2 separate regions of the Homo sapiens genome follow, and region 2 is linked to region 1. Evidence: fine-mapped expression QTL. A gene starts in region 1. The other region holds a variant in brackets. All regions are shown on one strand. Distances are from middle to middle.

Evidence for each region. PIP is the estimated chance that this variant, and not a neighbour inherited with it, causes the effect. A credible set is the group of variants that fine-mapping cannot tell apart.
Region 2: its variant is the best candidate, but not a certain one, in a credible set for the expression of MANBA in lung (TOPMed, PIP 0.55).

Annotation. Positions count from the first base shown.
Region 1 is chr4:102,758,003-102,763,217 of GRCh38, forward strand. It overlaps MANBA (mannosidase beta), which reads right to left and starts at 2,966. Exons shown (of 17, transcript NM_005908.4): 1 at 2,716-2,966. The coding sequence starts at 2,892. RefSeq lists an enhancer at 2,561-2,910 and a silencer at 3,001-3,130.
Region 2 is chr4:102,709,946-102,715,160 of GRCh38, forward strand. It overlaps MANBA (mannosidase beta), which reads right to left. Exons shown (of 17, transcript NM_005908.4): 5 at 4,493-4,616. Among named protein-coding and RNA genes, the nearest start is that of MANBA, 48 kb to the right of the region's middle. The variant A/T (reference allele first, on the strand shown) is at 2,594.

The DNA.
Region 1 (5,215 bases):
TCTTTGCTGGAAATGCACTTCTCCTTAAAAGTGACCTTTTCAAACAGGTCTTTTTGTTTAGAAGTCACCTTATCAAAATACCTATCTTGAACCACTTTTTAAAAAATAGCAATGCTTTCCAACCAGCCTTCACTGTCTCTTCCTTTAACCTGCTCAATTTTTCTTCAGTGTGCCACCTGCCTTACATTATTTATTAATTTGGTATATATGTCTATCTCCTCCATTAGAATGTCCATTAGGGAAAGGACTTTGTTTTCTTTACCACTCGATTTCAAGTACTTAGAATAGTGCCTGCCACATTAGAGGTACAAAATAAATATGAGATAATTAACTAGGTGAATAGATAAATAAATGAATGATATCACCAAGATATGTTTCAAGTTCTTACACAAACACAATATTTGGCCCAGTGTCTACTATAAACGGTAGAATATTTCCTCAAGTCAACACCAAAAAGGGATGTTATAATAAAGCAGGTCGGACAACAGTCTCACATTACTGAATAACGATACTGATCTGATGTTGATGATTGCTTCTTTACTTTTTTTCTTTTTTTTTTTTTTTTGAGAGAGGGTGTCACTCTGTTGCCCAGGTTGGAGTACAGATCACGGCTCACTGCAGCCTCAACCTCCTGGGCTCAAACGATCCTCCCACCTCAGCCTCCCTCGTAGCTAGGACCACAGGTGTACGCCACCACGCCCAGTTAATTTTTTAATTTTTTGTAGAGACAGGGTCTCGCCAGTTGCCCAGACTGGTCTAAACTCCACCTACCTCTGCCTCCCAAGTGCTGGGATTATAGGCATGAGCCACTGTGCCCAGCCTGATGATTATTTTCAACAGGCCTTGTGTTTCCTAAGCCCCAAAAGCCTTCCCATTTCTCATTCCACTGCCATTTGAGACCCATGGCCACCTGATTGAAACCTCAAGGTTTTGCTAAGAATTTATGAAGAGAGTTAAGAAATCTCTTCAAATTGTTCCTATGAGGAAGTTATTTCATACTATGAGCAAATTCATTTTCATTAAGTATCTGTTGTAACCAAACGTTGTTTCTTAGCTTCTTAGCTCTGTAATATGGCACAATAATCTGACTTACTGAAGCCACTCATTATTTCCCATTGGCTTAATTCTTTCTTTCTTTTTTTTTTTTTTTAGAGATAGAATCTCTCTATGTTGGCCATGCTGGTCTTGAACTCTTGGCCTCAAGAAATTTTCCCACCTCGGCCTCATAGACTCTTTCTATGTTGGCCATGCTGGTCTTGAACTCCTGGACTCAAGGGATCCTCCTACCTTGGCCTCCCAAAGCTCTCACGTACCAGCACCCATTGGCTTAATTATTTCAGTAAAATCAGGCAAGGAGGAACCCTACAAAATAAACACAGGCATTCTCAAAGCAGATATAAGTGAAAACTCAGAGTATACTGTGGTCAGCTGTGTTCTCTATCACAAGTAGTTTGTCAACTTAAAATAAAGTACTAAAGTTTGGGAATGATCTACTCTAAAAATACATCGGACAATGGTCAATGTCATTTACAACATTCACCTCCTTTCTGATACACATCTCAGGAAAAAAAAAAAAAAAACTACTAAGTACCAGGTCAGAAATTTGGCACAACCCTAGATGACCACCTTGTCATGCAAATAAACTTAGAATGGTGCTCCTGAAAGTCAGCCACAGTGCTTCAAAAACACATGATTTTTTAAAACACCAAACTAAGCATACCACATAGTATAGAGACCAGGCTATGGAGTTGAGACCACCTGGGTTAGAATTCCATTTCTTTCCATTTAGTTGCTGTCACCTTCCTAATTTCTCTGTGTTCCATAATTCCATATTATCCATAAAATTCAGATATGAACACTTACTATACAGAGTTGTTATGAGGATTGGACAATGTATGCATCCCACAAGTAGATCAATTACAAGTACATTTTGCCCCAAGTAAAGACAACACGTGGGAACGCTGTGCAAGAGGGAACAGCAAAAGCAGTTGGAGGATGGAAGTCAGTTTGCAAACCTATGCGCACAGGCAGCCAAACACGAAAACGTTCCCCACAAGTAGTCTGTAAATTGGAGACTCCATTGGGATACACACACACACACACACACACGCCCTGAGAGGAAATAGCACCTTTCTTCATCACCAAGTTAGCCTTAAAAATTATTTACCCGTTGTTAGCCACACTAGCACTGACAAACCCAACTTTACTCTTGTAGGTCATTCTCCACAACGTCTGTGCTGCGTCAATCCCAAATCTGACTCCCTGACGCTTAACAGCGAAAATAAAAAACCGAGACATTACTCAATAGAGTTAACCCTTACTTAACAAAACGCTGTTGTCCCCTGTGGCGTGCAGACAGTAGAGACAGTAATTCCCGACCTTATGCTTGTCAGTGACGGCATGCCCTTTGTATACACGCTTCAGTAGAGAACGACTGCAGTAAGTAAACTGCTAGTAGCAACACTGTTCCCCTATCTAAACTTCCCCTTTCCAGAGTTACTGATGTCCCAACATGGGTCGGTCGCTCAGTCTCCGTCAAGCCCGTACCCCATAGCTTGGGCATTTCCCCCCGCAGATCACAAGATGCAAAGGGGAAGTTACTACCAAACCGACGAGAATGGCCCAGAGCTGGGGGCTGCCAGGCGGTTCCTGGGCCCCTCTCAGCACCAGAAGAAGGCGGGCGCAGGCTCGCCGCGGGTCGGCCGCACGCCATACCTGGATCAGGCCCTGCTGGAACAAGGCGCTGTGCACGCAGCCAGGGACCGCCCCGGGCAGCTCCAGCGAGCCGTTCCCATTGCAGATGCTCCAGTTGCCACGCAAGCTGTAACTGAGCTCCGCGGCGGTGGTGCCTGCACCGCACAGCGCGAGCAGCAGGAGCAGGTGGAGGCGCATCTTGAGATCCCGCGCCACCGAGATGTGGAGAGATCGAAAGGCAGCGCTGCAAGGGACCGGCGGTGAAGCCACTCACCCCCTCGGAAGTAGCCGAGGCTTTAGGTCCCCGCCCCGGCCCCGCCCCTAGGTCAGCTGAGCGCTCTCCGGGCGCAGCCGCGGGCGGGAGGGGAACGAGGAGGCTGCGCCTGCACCCGCTGAAAGCCGGGCGTCGCGGGTGCGGGAGCTGCAGCCCCCGAGAATAGCTACAGGCTGGGGGGCATTGCGGTCTGAGCCTTCCCTCGGCGCTTCTTCCCGCCGCCTCAGTACATACAACTGGAGGCAAGAATCTTGCACGGTAATTGGGACAGAAAGATCCCTGGGCGCGCAGTGGCACAAAGCCTCGGGAGATCAGAGACCGACTGTACGTGGAGACCATAGCTGGAGAGTCCCCTCACTCCTTCAGAGAACCCAAACTGGGAGACAACCCACCACTTCCCTTCCGCCAAATTTACACAGACCCTCGTCTACCTGGTAGCGTAACACTCACCCCGCTGCAGCTCAACTCGCGGGTCTCAGAGCCTACCCCGCCCTTCAAAGAGTAAACAAGTACTAGCAGTATCTCCATCAGAAGGTTGTTCTGAGGGCTAACCAAGAAAATGCGACTATAGCATGCAGCATGGAGCCTGGCCCAGAGAAGGCATTCACGTTAGCTATTGTTACTAGCGGCCTGCGTCCTTATGTTTCATAAAGCCCCACGGAGGTTTCTGAGGTTCTGGAACCTGCACTAGGCGCGCAGCTGAGTTTAAAATCCTCTGCACTCACTAGCTGTGGGACCTGGGCAAGCCGCAAAATCTCCATCTCCGTTTCTTGAAGTTTTCAAGGTGTTATAAGTATAAAATGAGTAAACATATGTGATCGTCCCTAACAATGCCAGAGTACCCAAGAAATACCACTGACTTATTTCGGGTCTTGTAGTCAAATGGTCTACCTGAGTCCCATTTTTGCAATAGGATGTAACAGTAATCCTAGAAGTTAAGACGGAATTTTACATTGCATAAAATAGACTGCCTTTCTCCTGTGTTGACGCTATCTGCCGTATATTTATGCTTCGGAAGAAGTCCTTGAAAAGAAATTTTCTCTCATCAAATCTGAGCTTTGTTTCGCCTTACAATGGCCTTGGAATTGCCTGATTCTGCAGACACCGGGCAATATCTTACTTTGCAAAGTCAGCATTATTTACAAGCCCTGAATATCTTGGCTTAAAGGACAGTATGGATTATCCAACCCAAGCCGCTGGCTTTACAGATGAGGGAACTGAGTTCAAAGAGATCGGGGCCAGGCGCGGTGGCTCACGTCTGTAATCCCAGCACTTCTGGGAGGCCGAGGCGGGTGGATCACTTGAGGTCAGGAGTTCGAGGCCAGCCTGGCCAACATGGTGAAACCCTGTCTCTATTAAAAATACAAAAATTAGCTGGGCGCGTGGTGGCACGTGCCTGTAGTCGCAGGTGCTCGGGAAACTGAGGCAGGAGAACCGCTTGAACCCAGGAAGCAGAGGTTGCAGTAAGCCGAGATGGCACTACTGCACTCCAGCCTGGGCTATAGAGAAAGACTCTAAAAAAAAAAAAAAAAAAAAGATCAGGTGACTTGCCTGTCACATAGTGGCAGACAGGATTAGAACCCTCCTCTTCAAGGTCCTACTGTCAGAGCCCAATGATGCTATAGGGGAAACGCTCTCACTGCTTCAAAGCCTTCCTCACTCACTCCAGAAGCATTTTTACCTTTGATAGAAACAAAGCTCTCAATTCAAATTATATGCCATAATTCACGGCATTAAATGGCTAGCCATGGTCTGTGCAACACTGATAACACAAGGTTTATGGCAACAAGAGCGGCAAAGGAATTTTTTCATAATTCCCAGAGATTTCATTAAGCCAAATCAGAGGAAAATTCATCCTTGATGATACATATGGATATATTCTGTTTATTAAGAAATATAATTTTTAGAAAAACAATAATAGAAGATTCTCATTCCTCCTTTCATTCCAGGATGCAAGCATAACATCATTTAGGTTACTTCACTTTGACAACAGAGAACATCAAAGAATAATCAAAGCCCTAATAAGTACTCTTCCTAAAATTGCAATTGGCACAGATGACATGATGTTTTCATTTTGTTATAGGATAATTTTTGTCCATGATTTTCTGGTAAATAAACCTTATTTAGAGATAACATAAAACTTCTCAACTTATGTAATTTAAAGTCATGATACCAAATGCAATGTTTAAAATAGTTATGGGTATCTTTAACTTACACTGTATAAACAGATTTCATTTTGATCATTTC
Region 2 (5,215 bases), 48 kb before region 1:
TAATAAAATTCAATATCCCTTCATGATAAAAACTATCAACAAATTAGTCATAGAAGGAGCATACCTCAACATAATAAAAGCCATATATAAAAACCCAGAGCTAACATCACACCAAATGAGGAGGAGCTGAAAGTCTTTCCTCTAAGAACTAGAATGGGAAAAAGATGCCCACGTTCACCACTCCTATCCAATAAAATGCTGGAAGTCCTATCCAGGGCAATAAAGCAAGAGAAAAACATAAAAGGTACCAAATTGGAAAAGAGGAAGTAAAATTATTCCTCTTTGCAGATGACATGCTCTTACATCTGCAAAAACTTGGAAGATTCATAAAAAAATTCTTAGATCTGATAAATAAATTCAGCAAATTTGTAGGACACAAAGTCAACATACAAAAATTAGTAGTGTTTCTACACATCAATGATGAACTAGCTGAGAAAGAAATCAAGAAGGCAATCCCATTTACAATAGCTACAAAAAATAAAATACCTAGGAATAAATGTAACCAAAAAGGTGAAAGACCTCTACAAGGAAAACTATAAACGTCTGATGAAATAAATTGAAGAGGTCACACAAACAAATCGAAAAACATCCCATGCTCATGGGTTGGAAGAATTAATATCATTAAAATGACCACCATACTACCCAAAGCAATCTACAGAGTCAATGCAATCACTATCAAAATACCAAAGTCACTTTGTACAGAAATAGAAAAAAAATCCTACAGTTCATATGGAACCAAAAAAGAGCTCAAACAACCAAAGCAATCCTGAGTCAAAAGAAGGCATCACACTACCTGAAAACAGACACATAAACCAAAGGAACAGAGTGTAAACCCCAGAAATAAACCAACTTATTAATAACTAACTGATTTTTCACAAAGGCATCTTGGTCAGAGAACATGCATTGGAGAAAGAATACCCTCTTCAATCCTCTTCAATAAATGGTGCGGGGAAAATTGGATATCCATAAGCAGAAAAATGAAACTGGACTCTTATCTCTCACCATAAATAAAAATAAACTCAAGATGGATTAAAGACTTAAACATAAGACCTGAAACGATAAAACTACTAGAAGAAAACATACGAGAAGCATTTCAAGACATCGATCTAGACAAAGATTTTTATAGCTAAGACCTCAAAAGCAAAGATAACAAACATAAACATAGACAAATAGTACTATATTAAACTAAAAAGCTTCTTCACAGCAAAGGAAGCATTCAACAGAATGTAGAGACAACTTGTTGAATGGGAGAAAATATTTGCAGACTATTCATTTGACAAGGTACTAATATCTGGAATACACAAGGAACTCAACTGAACAGTAAAAAAGCAAATAACCCCATTTAAAAGTGGGCAAAGGACATGAATAGACATTTCTCTAAAGAAGACATACAAATGGCCAACAGGTATATGCACAAATGGTCAACATCACTAATCATCAGGGAACTGTAAATCAAAACCACAAATACTATCTTACTCCAGTTAGAATGACTATTACTGAAAAGACAAAAAATAATAGATGCTGGAGAGGATGCAGAGAAGAGGAAACATTTATACACGGTTGTGGGAATATGAGTGAGTACAGCCACAATGGAAATACTATATTTCTCAAGAAACTAATAGTAGAGTCATTACCATACAATCCAAGAATCCCACTAATAGGTAACTATCCACAGAAAAAGAAATCAGTATAACAAAAAGATACTTGCACCCCATGTTTACTGCAGCACTATTCACAATAGCAAAGATATAGAATCAACCTAAGTGTCCATCAACAGATGAATGGCTAAAAAAGAATAAAATCATGTCTTCCACAGCAACATGGATGGAACTGGAGGTCATTATGTTAAGTGAAATTAGACAGAGAAAGACAAATTTTGCATCTTGCCACTCACATGTCAGAGGTAAAAATGTTGATCTCATGGAGGTAGAGAGTGAAATAATAGAGACGAGAGGCTAGGAGGGGTATATGAGTGGCAGAGAGGAATGAAGAAAGGCTGATGAATGGGTACAAGCATGCATTTAAATAGAAGGAATAAGTTCTAATGTTTGACAGCATAATAGTGTGACTATACTTAACAACATGTATGGTATATTTCAAAATAGCTAGAAGAGAGGACTTGAAATATTCCCAACATAGAGAAATGATAAATACTAGAGGTGATAGATACCCGAATTACCTTGACTTGATCATTACACATTCTATGCATGTAACAAAATACCACACATACCCCATAAATATGTACAAATATTACGTGTCAATTTAAAAAATGTATTTAACCTTCACCAATGTAGTTGAGAGGAGGAACTGTTTACACTGAATCTAAATTGAATTTTAAGCATCATTTAAATTAATTCATATAAAATTCACTCAGTCACTAGTGACTAATAAAGTGAACTCTAATAACTCAGGAAGAAATGTTTAGTTTCATATTCAAATTGTAAATTAAACCAGAGCAGTATTATTCAAATTTTTTTCAGGCATCAGGGTACCCAGAGCTTATAATGCATTTTGCAGACCACCCAAAATACTGATTAAGCTTCAAAATAAATAAATAACTTTTTGCTAAATCGGACCACTTTTTTTTTTTTTT[A/T]AACAGCATCTCGCTCCATCACCCAGGCTGGAGTGCAGTGGTACAATCACAACTCACAGCAGCTCTACCTCCTGAGCTCAAGCGATCCTGCCACCTCAGCCTCTCGAGTAGCTGGGACTGCAGGTGAACGCCACCAGGCCTGGCTAATTTTTGTATTTTTTGTATTTTTTGTCAGAGATAGGATTTTGCCATGTTGTCTAGGTCGGTCTCTAACTCTTAGGCTCAGGGAATCCACCCACTTTGGCCTCCCAAAGTGCTGGAATTACAGGCATGAGCCACTGCGCTCAGCTCAGACCACTTCTCACACCAGATTCTGTTATTTATACCTGAGAAAACGTATGGGTGGTAGCATGGGATGAAGGGAGATTAAACCATTATTTGATTTTAGTAGCGAAAATCTTTAGTTGGATTACACCTCAGAAGAATAGTTTGGGAAGCACTAAACTAGAGAATTATAAGCACAGCCACATTTACATGTGCAATTTAAATTAGATCTTTTAATGCCTTTTTAAAGTTTAAAAATACCAACAGCACCAAATAACCTCCTCAAATCTAAGCATCTATCATTTGCTTTCATCTTCTGCCTTCAGAAAATACAGATTTGGCTCAATTGAATAGCAAGCTAAGGTCACCAGGGCTCTCAAGATAACAGAACTCTTGAACTGACACACCACATTCTTTCTTACTGATTTCATCTAGTTAGGCCTCCGTGTGATTACACTGAGCATTGCACGCTCTCATTTAAGATCTCACTTGCCTCCATCTTCATCCTTCATTTCCCTAACTTCTCAAATCCTCACTGATCTTTGATTTTCTGGCTCTTATCTTGGAAGGTTATTTGTTTTGTTTGGTAATTGTTTGTATCTCCCCTCCCCACACATGAAGGGATCAGTGTACCTACTCTATTTCTTTTATCAAATAAACACAGCGCTGAGCAAAGAAAGCAACAAATATTTAACCAGCTTTTAACTTATCCACTGACATCTGTGAGATTTCTGAGGTTCTATTTCAATGCTCCTTGATATTGAATAGTTGCTTCAACTTAAAAAGTACTATTTTTCACCTTAGAAATATTTCTTTTGGCCAGGCGCAGTGGCTTACGCCTGTAATCCCAGCACTTTGGGAGGCTGAGGCGGGCAGATCACCTGAGGTCAGGAGTTCGAGACTGGCCAATATGGAGAAACCCCATCTCTACTAAAAATACAAAATTAGCTGGGCGTGGTGGCACATGCCTGTAATCACAGCTACTCAGGAGGCTGAGGCAGGAGAATCGCTTGAACCCGGGAGGCAGAGGCTGCAGTGAGCCAAGATTGTGCCACTGCACTCCAGGCTGGGCAACAAGAGTGAAACTCCATCTCAAAAAAAAAAAAAAAAAAAGAAAAGAAAAGAAATCTTTCTTTTGCCCTGTTTACCTTCCAGTTTATTTTTAACTCTTCACAAGGCTGTTGTGTCAGGGCCCTTGTGTCAGGGCCCTCAGAGTAGTGCTCTGGGTTATGAAGAAAATGTACAGAGACAGAAAGCCAGTCTAACGGTGTGAGCAAAGCAAGAATTTGACACTAAAAGTGACTACAGAGGCAGCAAAAAGGAGCACAGCCAGCAGGCCCAGTTCTTTCAAGAAAGAATACTTATCTCAGGAAAACTTGGCGCTGCTCTTCCATTTTATTTTTTCCTTTTTCTGTAAAATATGCTAAAAGATACCTACCTACATATCTGCTTTATATTGTCAATTTTCATGTAAAATCAGTTTGTACCTATTTTTTACTTTTATAAATTGATTGTACCACAAAGTTTTTAAAAATTCTAAATCTCTGAAAAACATACCTCTGTATTTCAATTATAAACCCAATTTTTATAACAAGAAGACTCAAAAAGAAAAAAAAATCACATCTTTCAGCTTACCATATATTGGGGAAAATGTGAAGTAGTTCAGGTGACAAATATTATAGGCTTCAATTCTAACATCTTTCCAGATTCCCTGGGTAGGAAAGGAAGGCCCCCAGTCCCAACTAAAGGAACATTGCTCCTGCAATTTCAAGGAGAAAAAGAAGATATATTCTGATTATGGTGAAATTTAAACATTATGAAAAACATTTTCTTTAAAAATGTTACATATGTGTATATAAGTTTGCTATGGCAGCCATAACAAAGTATCACAAACTAAGTGGTTTAAACAATGGAAATGTATTTTCTCACAGTGAAGTCCAAGATCAAGCTATCAGCAGGTTTGGTTCCTCCTGAAGCCGATCTCCTCTGTTTGCACTGTGTCCTCACATGGTCTTTTTCTGTGCTAGGCATCCCTGGTGTCTCTCTCCATTGTCCAAATGTCCCCTTCTTAAAAGGACACTAGTTGTATTGGAATAGGGCCCACACTAACTGCCTCATTTTATCTTAATCACCCCTTAAAGACCTTCTCCAAATATGATTACATTCTGAGATACCAGAGGTTAGGACTTCAACATATGAATTTGGGGGGACCACAAGTTAGTGCAAAACTGTGTGTGCCCCCCAACCACCATACACAGCCTCTGAGGTGGCCCACAATGATCCCCCCTTTGAAGTGACCTAGTGAATCACTTCTAACCACCAGCATATAGCAAAAATGATGTGATTTTATTAATTAGG